2 separate regions of the Homo sapiens genome follow, and region 2 is linked to region 1. The links come from fine-mapping of genetic effects on gene expression. A gene starts in region 1. The other region holds a variant in brackets. All regions are shown on one strand. Distances are between the middles of the regions.

Region 1 (5,384 bases):
TTGAAGGGAGATCAAGACCAGTGCTCATGTGAAACAAGGGTGGGGAAGACGGTAGGAGATAGAAACTGGAGAGGTAAGTAGTGGCCAGATCAGGTAGACTGTTGAAAGCCAAAGCAGGGAGTCTGAATTTTATTCTAAGTGTGCTTACAAATATTTAGAGTTTATAAATAATTAAGCAGGAAATTACAATGATCTTATTTATTATCCCCTGTGAAGGTCTCCTGTTTTCTCAGATTAACAAATTCATGGTTCTCTTTAAAAGTCCAGCTCAAGTATCACACGCATTGTAAAGCCTTTTGTCATTGTCAGTGAGGCAGTGGTTGGGTGGTCCTGTTTAACCAGCTTTCCTAGAGGTGACTTCTCCCATTCAGTTCTATTCAAGTCAAAGATGAGTCTTAGAGACTGTCTCATGCTTTAGTAGTTTATTCTGGCATCGCTCTTAAAAGATAGTGGGAAGAGGCTGGGGGTATAGACCAGATAGTCAGGGCTCGGATGATCAAGAGAGCCTCCAACCAGAGACTGTTCTCAGTGTTGGGGGTTTCTTCCCCCTTTTTAAAACCTGTATTCAGCTTGGTCAGTTATCAGATGTTTCTCTCATAAATGGAGTCGAAGCTATTCTTACAAGGGTAAGCTTTAAGGTTCATGAAAGTTGCATCTGTGCTGAAGTGGCCTGGTCTCCTGGAAATCACTGGGCCAGGGGTGGAAATCTCCAGGGCCAGTTAGTATTATATTGATAAATACATTTAGTGTCAGCCCCTCAAGACACTTGAGTGAGCCTTATGGCTATAATTACTCTTATAGCCACGATATATCTCTTATAGTACATTTTCCTTAATTTTCCAAGTATCTTCTCTGTCTTTAGTTTTCCCATTTCATACATTCTTGCATTTACATGGTACATTTCTCTACTATAGTACCTTCTGCTTGTTTTCAACTTGTCTGTTCTACTGAACTGTTAACTCCATAAGGGTAGGGACTGTGTTTATCTTCCTGTATGCATAGTTTATAATGCAGTGCACAGCATATCGTAATGTTAAGAAAATGATTACTGAATGAACAAATGAGTATTTCAATTATCCCATAACTTAGGCTTCTGGTCTTAACCTTTCTGTCAAATTCCAGTTTCTTATTTTTAAATGCCTATTTACATTTTTAATTGTCTAGTTTTTCTTCAGACTCAACTTCACATACCCACATCTCTTTCCAACTTCTCCGTTTAATTAATTAATTAATTAATTTGAGAGGGAGTTTCCCTCTTGTTGCCTAGGCTGGAGTGCAATGGTGCAATCTTGGCTCACTGCAGCCTTTGCCTCCTGAGTTCAAGCGATTCTCCTGCCTCAGCCTCCCAAGTAGCTGGGATTACAGGTGCCCACCACCATGCCCAGCTAAGTTTTTGTATTTTTAGAAGAGATGGGTTTTCGTCATGTTGGCCAGGCTGGTCTCAAACTCCCGGCCTCAGGTGATCTGCCTACCTCAGCCTCCCAAAATGCTGGAATTACAGGCGTGAGGCCCTGCGACTGGCCAACTTCTCCGTTTTTATTGGTAATACCAACTTCTTTCTAATTTCCTTGACCAGAAATTTTAGAGTACTTTTATTCTTCCCCTGATGCTGGGGATGTCCTTTACTCTATTTCATTGACTGTAAGCCTAGTTCAGACTTTTATCACCTAATTCCTGGAAAAATGCAACAAAGTGGCTGGCTGGGGAATAATTCTGGCTCAAACGTCTTCCCTTCTCAAATCTGTACTGCATGTCTTTGCAAGATCATTGTTAATTAAATATTTTATTCGTGAGTTCATGCATTGTTCCATTTTCCAAGTATTTTTGCACACTGAATGTATGACATGCCACTCCCTTATATAAAGCCTTACTTAGTGCTCACATGAACTAAATGAGATAGTATTTTTATCTCCATTTTACAGATAAGGAAATTAGGATTTAGATTAACTGCCCAAAGTCAGTAACACCAAACACAAAATGGTAGAGCTGAGGCCTGAACACAGGTCTTTTTAGTTGAAAACTCTGAGCTCTGCTTAATCATTGTGCTAGTAAGTTCGTATCCCAAGTTTAAAGTCCTTCTTCACTTTGGAGGATTTCCATGAAATAGCCTACCAATCCTACTTCCCATTTCTGCTGCACTTGGATTTTCTATTTCATATTTCAAATATTTTTCTAGTTATCTCCTGTGCATTGCCCTTCTCTACTTCAAGTAGATTGTAAGCTTCTTAAAACCTTACTCTTATTACACTTGCCTTGCATTTCTATGAAGATCTACTGTTGTAGATGACACACTAAATTCTCAGTGAATAATTTATAAAATCTTTAGCACAGTCCTTGGCACATATGCATGTTTAACAAATGGTATCAATGATTATTATTACTACACAGGGACTGATGCCTCAAACTGAAGACCTAATAGGAAACCAGAAAATTCTGATCTCTTCCTCAGTCCTAAGAACTCTGCTTGCTTTCTCCACAATTTAGACTAGTGGTTTCCAACAATAAGTGAGTACATTTCAGTCTCATAGTCTCATCTCTCTACTACGAAACAGTGCTAAGTATGATATAGACATCACCATAACATGAACAACACAGCAAAATTTTGTCCATTACTGCTCTCTTTGAGGGTACTTTGGAGAAAGGAAAATGGAATAGTTGTAGTTACATTTTTGAAAAAATGGTTAATACCCTATCTATCGACAGATGGATCTATTGATGGATAAACTTCATTTAACTTTCATGAAGTTACTAGCGTCTTGTCAAGACTTCCTGGCTCAAGTTTCTGATGTACAGAACTTAGCATTCTTCAGGCACCCCCCTGTTGTATAATCCCTGCTTCATTTTGGCGCTTCAAGCAGAATTGGTTCACATGCAGCAATAGGAAAATCCGACATTCAGGCCTTGAATGGTTCACATGACGCAGTGAAAACGGTCGATTTAGGGCCTCCCTAGTCCTGATTATTTTTTTTTGAGACGGAGTCTCGCTTTCTCGCCAGGCTGGAGTGCAGTGGCGCGGTCTCGGCTCACTCCAACTTCCGCCTGCTGGGTTCAAGCGATTCTCCTGCCTCAGCCTCCCAAGTAGTGGGAATTACAGGCACGCGCCACCATGCCCAGCTAATTTTTGTATTTTTAGTAGAGATGGGGTTTCACCATGTTGGGCAGGCTGGTCTGTGAACTCCTGACCTTGTGATCCGCCCACCTCGGTCTCCCAAAGTGCTGGGATTACGAGCGTGAGCCACGGCGCCCGACCCCCTAATCCTGATTTTCGAAGATATGACGCATGTATCCTGCCCCCGCGAGCGCCGTCGCGCCGTCGCGCCACATACGTCACACGCTCTTCGGAAAGCGTTGCTGCGTAAATGGCGGGGGCGTGTCTTTTGGCTCCTCCGCGTGTAGTTACCTGAGAAACGCGGGAAGTTGGGCCCAGGCAGTGTTGCTGCGGTTGCCTAAGTTGTTTTTCTATTTCTGGAGAGAGCCGTGAGCTTGTCCAGGGGCCCCAATCCTGAGGCCGACCCGGTTTCTGGCGCGGTGCGATGGAGGTAGTGGAGGCCGCCGCCGCTCAGCTGGAAACTCTGAAATTCAATGGCACCGACTTTGGAGTTGGGGAAGGTCCGGCGGCTCCGTCTCCGGGCTCTGCCCCTGTGCCAGGGACACAGCCGCCGCTACAGTCGTTTGAGGGGTCCCCGGACGCTGGGCAGACCGTGGAGGTTAAGCCTGCCGGGGAGCAGCCTCTGCAGCCCGTTCTGAACGCCGTCGCGGCCGGGACCCCGGCGCCGCAGCCACAGCCACCGGCTGAATCGCCGGCCTGCGGAGACTGCGTCACCTCCCCAGGAGCCGCAGAGCCTGCGCGGGCGCCGGACTCCTTGGAGACCTCGGACTCGGATTCGGACTCGGACAGGTCGGGTGCCTAAGGGACCCGGAGCTGTGGGGAGAGGTCTTGTATGACGGGCGGGGGTGGCTGGGGCCTAGGAGCCTAGAGGTTGCTTGTGTGGGCCCTGGAGGGTGGGCAGGTCGTTGGTGCTCCGGGCTCACGTGTTGAAGTATTGGCTCCGACTGCCCCTTATTCGCTGCCTCTCAAAGCAGGTCGCGTTGTGAATCTGAGCTTAGTACTGACTTATTTCCTAAATTTGGTGGCCTGAAGGGTTCTATGTATAGATCGTATCATTTTTTGTTAGACTTTAGAAAACCCGAGGATCTTAGGTTATTTCCGTAACTACTCAGTTTAGGCTGTACTTTTGTGGTTATAGTTGAGTTTTGTGTCAGATCTGATTTTTTTTTATCATCACATCTAGGCTTTGTTTTTTGAACCACATACATTGGGGATCAGGAAAAGTATTATTTTTTGTGTTTCAAAGCTGGCTCTTGATGATTACGTTAATTTATAGAATCCTTGCAGGGAACACGTGTTTATGAAAGTAGCCAAACAGTGTTATTTAGTAGTATCTTATGCTTCTTACGTTTTGTGAGAGCCTTTCCCCCTTGCCCCCACACCTGTCTTTTAAATATGAAATCTCTGGGCTGGAGAGGACTCCAGCATGTGGGATGTTACTAAACCACACTGAACATTGTCTACAAATAGTTGAGTGTGTTGAGTGGGGTACTGAACAGGTTAACAAGATAGACACGTGTTGAGGAGGTGAGAAGTTTAGTTTTCAGGGAAGTCATCAGCGGAGAGTGGAAGTGAAGAAGGCTGAAGGATTTGAGTAGAAGGAGAGGGTATGAAATGTACTGGGAGGGGGAAGTAACAACTGTAAACAAGGTTGGATTTCTTGGCAGTACTAAGATTGCAGTATAATCATCTTGTGGGATTTCAGAGCTCATTTTACTAGCAAAGAAAAGTAAATGGTAGATGATTTGGGGATACGTTTTGAAAGCAGAAGGGATATGGCGTCATAATAGGCCAACTTAGTGTCAGGATACTACTTCTGACTCTGTGGGTGATGGCAGAGGATACCAAATATTTGAAGAAGTCAAAAGGGGTACAACTTTTTGCCAGTTAACAGCAGTGAAATCAAATGGAAACTGAAGAAGCAGGTTTAGTTAGTATAATGCACTTTTTCTTGTTTTAACTTGCTATGAGTGTGGGTGTATAGGCCATTCGTACAAAGGTGGCCAGTATGCCGTCAGAGATTGGACATGGAGTTTAGAGATGTCATAGCTGAAGATTTAGGCGTTAATTCACATGGATGATGACTGAAATCATTAATGTGTATGGGATTATCCATGAAAGTAGTAGCGAAAGAAGAGAAAGTGAGGATGGAACCCTTAAAAATAGTATATAAAAGGGCTTCAAGTGGGGAGCCAACAAACAAAATTTAAACTGAGACAGTGGTTGCTGTTAACGATAATTTCTGTGGAAGATAAGGACCAAGTGAGTTTTCAGA
Region 2 (5,384 bases), 45 kb before region 1:
CAATTAGACTAAATATTTATTCCTTAACCTCCTACTTCCCTGCCCCTTGATGTTAGCATTCTCCAGGTGACTGATTTGGGTCCTTGGAATGTGGGTGAAAGTGACCGTGAATATGTTTTATTCCAGATCTTAAGATCTTAAATGTCATTGTCTATTTCCACTTATTCCTCTGGAAGTTTTGGATCTCTTCCAAAGTAGCCACTACTCCTAGTTTCTAAGTTCCAGAATGAACATTCATGGAGTGGAGCCACCTCAGAAGTAGAGCCATAGAAGCTGACCCACATGGTCTTAGTGTGAGAATAAATACTTATATTTAATATGGTGATTGTAAGGTTGTTTCATGTGCAGCCAAAACTGACTAATACCAATACCTGGTGACTGTAGGAACTAATGAGAATGCGCAGTGTTCAATCCTCACACCCATGATCCTTGAACACTTCTTCAGCTATAACTTCCCCTCCAATACTAGGATTAAATAGACACTAACTTATTCTTAAGATTTATTTTTCTCCTTAACAGCTGCACCCCTTTGGTTCTCCAATTCTGGTTTCCTTAGACCCTTAACTTTTCACTTTACATGCTGCCTCTTTCAAGCTATGTTTTACATTTGCTAAAGTTATATACTTCTGAGAATATGTGTATTTTAGTGAAGGGATCCTGCTAAGATAACTTAAATCATGTATATTTAGAGCAACTGACTGACCTAAATGAGAGAAAAAGGAATTCAGAATAAACAAAATGAATACTTAACAAATAGCAAAATGATAGATTTAAATCCAAACATATCAGTTATTAAATAAACATGAACCAACTTCTCAACAACAAAGACAACTGTATACTGCTTATAAGAGAGTCATATAAAATATAATACTCAAAATATAAGGAAAAAAGGATCGAAAAGATATACCATGTAAACATTACCTAAAAGAAAGTTTGTGTAGCTATATTAAAATCAGACTAGTAGGGACTAGGCACAGGGACTCAGACTTGTAATCCCAGCACTTTGAGAGGCTGAGGCAGGAGGATCATTTGAGGCAAGGACTTCAAGACCAGCCTGGGCAACATAGTGAGATCCTTTCTCCACAACACTAAAAAATTAGCTGCATGTGATGGTGCACACCTGTAGTCCCAGCTACTCAGGAGGCTGAGGTGGAAGGATCCCTTGAGCTCTGGAGATGGAGGCTGCAGTGAGCTGTTATCATGTCACTGCACTCCAACGTGGTTGACAGAGCAAGACTCCATCTCCAAACAAAACAAACAAAAAATCAAACTAGTAGACTTTTAGCTAAAAACCCACAAAAAAAATAGTTCAAATAAAAATACATATGTGTGTATATATATATAGAGAGAAATATATGTAAATATATCATCTCTGTATAATATATATGTATGTATCATATATAAATGTATACATGTGTATATATATCTTTATGTATGTATATTATGGGTATTATATGGATATAATATACATTATATAGATATCTATCTATACATATATACACATGTGTACTTATATAGATATATACCTATATATACACATATAGATATCTATCCATACATATATATGCATATATACACAGATATATGTAGAGATAGATATGTATCTATATATCTATGTGTATTATATATAATACATATATATGTATTATATATAGATCACACATATTTATCAATAACTTTTATAAATCTAGAGTAATATAATGTGGTGTTGGTATAACAATATACATATGGAAATGGAACTGAATAACAACTACAAAATAAGATCCACACAAATACGAATACCTCACTTATTATTTGAGTGGCACTCTTGAGGAAGAGAATCAAATAGGGATTTTGACCGATTATACAAAAGAAATCAGGCTGGGTGTGGTGGCGCACGCCTGTAATCCCAGCACCTTGGGAGGCCGAGGCAGGTGGATCACAAGGTCAGGAGTTTGAGACCAGTCTGGCCACCACAGTGAAACCCTGTCTCCACTAAAAAATATAAAAAATTAGCCGGGTGTGGTGGTGTGCACCTGTAACCCCAGCTACTCAGGAGGCTGAGGCAGGAGAATCACATGAACCCGGGAGGTGGAGGTTGCAGTGAGTTGAGGTTGCGCCATTGCACTCCATCCCAGGCGACAGTGTGAGACGCTGACCCCCCCAAAAAAAAAGTGGGGGGAGGAACCAAGATGGCGGAATAGGAACAGCTCCTATCTACAGCTCCCAGCATGAGCGACACAGAATACAGGTGATTTCTGCATTTCCATCTGAGGTACCGGGTTCATCTCACTAGGGAGTGCCAGACAGTGGGCGCAGGTCAGTGGGTGCGCGCACCGTGCGCGAGCCGAAGCAGGGTGAGGCATTGCCTCACTCGGGAAGGGCAAGGGGTCAGGGAGTTCCCTTTCCTAGTCAAAGAAAGGGGTGATGGACAGCACCTGGAAAATCGGGTCACTCCCGCCCGAATACTGCGCTTTTCCAA[T/C]GGGCTTAAAAAACGGCGCACGACGAGATTATATCCCGCACCTGGCTCGGAGGGTCCTGCGCCCACGGAGTCTTGCTGATTGCTAGCACAGCAGTCTGAGATCAAACTGCAAGGCGGCAGTGAGGCTGGGGGAGGGGCGCCCGCCATTGCCCAGGCTTGCTTAGGTAAACAAAGCAGCCAGGAAGCTGGAACTGGGTGGAGCCCACCACAGCTCAAGGAGGCCTGCCTGCCTCTGTAGGCTCCACCTCTGGGGGCAGGGCACAGACAAACAAAAAGAAAGCAGTAACCTCTGCAGACTTAAATGTCCCTGTCTGACAGCTTTGAAGAGAGCAGTGGTTCTCCCAGTACGCAGCTGGAGATCTGAGAACGGGCAGACTGCCTCCTCAAGTGGGTCCCTGACCCCTGACCCCCGAGCAGCCTAACTGGGAGGCACCCCCCAGCAGGGGCACACTGACACCTCACACGGCAGGGTACTCCAACAGACCTGCAGCTGAGGGTCCTGTCTGTTAGAAGGAAAACTAACAAACAGAAAGGACATCCACACCAAAAACCCATCTGTACATCACCATCATCAAAGACCAAAAGTAGATAAAACCACAAAGATGGGGAAAAAACAGAACAGAAAAACTGGAAACTCTAAAAAGCAGAGCGCCTCTCCTCCTCCAAAGGAACGCAGTTCCTCACCAGCAATGGAACAAAGCTGGACGGATGGAGAACGACTTTGACGAGCTGAGAGAAGAAGGCTTCAGACGATCAAATTACTCTGAGCTACGGGAGGACATTCAAACCAAAGGCAAAGAAGTTGAAAACTTTGAAAAAAATTTAGAAGAATGTATAACTAGAATAACCAATACAGAGAAGTGCTTAAAGGAGCTGATGGAGCTGAAAACCAAGGCTCGAGAACTACGAGAAGAATGCAGAAGCCTCAGGAGCCGATGCGATCAACTGGAAGAAAGGGTATCAGCAATGGAAGATGAAATGAATGAAATGAAGCGAGAAGGGAAGTTTAGAGAAAAAAGAATAAAAAGAAATGAGCAAAGCCTCCAAGAAATATGGGACTATGTGAAAAGACCAAATCTACGTCTGATTGGTGTACCTGAAAGTGACAGGGAGAATGGAACCAAGTTGGAAAACACTCTGCAGGATATTATCCAGGAGAACTTCCCCAATCTAGCAAGGCAGGCCAATGTTCAGATTCAGGAAATACGGAGAACGCCACAAAGATACTCCTCGAGAAGAGCAACTCCAAGACACATAATTGTCAGATTCACCAAAGTTGAAATGGAGGAAAAAATGTTAAGGGCAGCCAGAGAGAAAGGTCGGGTTACCCTCAAAGGGAAGCCCATCAGACTAACAGCAGATATCTCAGCAGAAACCCTACAAGCCAGAAGAGAGTGGGGGCCAATATTCAACATTCTTAAAGAAAAGAATTTTCAACCCAGAATTTCATATCCAGCCAAACTAAGCTTCATAAGTGAAGGAGAACTAAAATACTTTACAGACAAGCAAATGCTGAGCGATTTTGTCACCACCAGGCCTGCCCTAAAAGAACTCCTGAAGGAAGTGCTAAACATGGAAAGGAACAACCGGTACCAGCCGCTGCAAAATCATGCCAAAATGTAAAGACCATCGAGACTAGGAAGAAACTGCATCAACTAACGAGCAAAATAACCAGCTAACATCATCATGACAGGATCAGATTCACACATAACAATATTAACTTTAAATGTAAATGGACTAAATGCTCCAATTAAAAGACACAGACTGGCAAATTGGATAAAGAGTCAAGACCCATCAGTGTGCTGTATTCAGGAAACCCATCTCACGTGCAGAGACACACATAGGCTCAAAATAAAAGGATGGAGGAAGATCTACCAAGCAAATGGAAAACAAAAAAGGCAGGGGTTGCAATCCTAGTCTCTGATAAAACAGACTTTAAACCAACAAAGATCAAAAGAGACAAAGAAGGCCATTACATAATGGTAAAGGGATCAATTCAACAAGAAGAGCTAACTATCCTAAATATATATGCACCCAATACAGGAGCACCCAGATTCATAAAGCAAGTCCTGAGTGACCTACAAAGAGACTTAGACTCCCACACATTAATAATGGGAGACTTTAACACCCCACTGTCAACATTAGACAGATCGACAAGACAGAAAGTCAACAAGGATACCCAGGAATTGAACTCAGCTCTGCACCAAGTGGACCTAATAGACATCTACAGAACTCTCCACCCCAAATCAACAGAATAATCATTCTTCTCAGCACCACGTCGCACTTATTCCAAAATTGACCACATATTGGAAGTAAAGCTCTCCTCAGCAAATGTAAAAGAACAGAAATTATAACAAACTATCTCTCAGACCACAGTGCAATCAAACTAGAACTCAGGATTAAGAATCTCACTCAAAACCACTCAACTACATGGAAACTGAACAACCTGCTCCTGAATGACTACTGGGTACATAACGAAATGAAGGCAGAAATAAAGATGTTCTCTGAAACCAACGAGAACAAAGACACAACATACCAGAATCTCTGGGATGCATTCAAAGCAGTGTGTAGAGGGAAATTTATAGCACTAAATGCCCACAAGAGAAAGCAGGAAAGATCCAGAATTGACACCCTAACATCACAATTAAAAGAACTAGAGAAGCAAGAGCAAACACATTCAAAAGCTAGCAGAAGGCAAGAAATAACTAAAATCAGAGCAGAACTGAAGGAAATAGAGACACAAAAAACCCTTCAAAAAATTAATGAATCCAGGAGCTGGTTTTTTGAAAGGATCAACAAAATAGATAGACCACTAGCAAGACTAATAAAGAAAAAAAGAGAGAAGAATCAAATAGATGCAATAAAAAATTATAAAGGGGATATCACCACCGATCCCACAGAAATACAAACTACCATCAGAGAA

Which allele goes with the higher level. Positions count from the first base shown, and alleles are read on the strand shown. Sizes are in standard deviations (SD) of each study's normalised expression.
For the expression in tibial nerve of the gene that starts at base 3,371 in region 1, allele C in region 2 goes with a lower level than allele T (small effect, 0.14 SD a copy in GTEx).

The links. PIP is the estimated chance that this variant, and not a neighbour inherited with it, causes the effect. A credible set is the group of variants that fine-mapping cannot tell apart.
Region 2: its variant is the best candidate, but not a certain one, in a credible set for the expression of NAF1 in tibial nerve (GTEx, PIP 0.63).

What each region holds. Positions count from the first base shown.
Region 1 is chr4:163,164,877-163,170,260 of GRCh38, reverse strand. NAF1 (nuclear assembly factor 1 ribonucleoprotein) reads left to right here and starts at 3,371. Exons shown (of 8, transcript NM_138386.3): 1 at 3,371-3,898. The coding sequence starts at 3,534. RefSeq lists enhancers at 3,418-3,617, 3,638-3,757, 3,788-3,867, 3,359-4,226.
Region 2 is chr4:163,209,741-163,215,124 of GRCh38, reverse strand. No RefSeq gene overlaps it. Among named protein-coding and RNA genes, the nearest start is that of NAF1, 46 kb to the right of the region's middle. The variant T/C (reference allele first, on the strand shown) is at 2,462.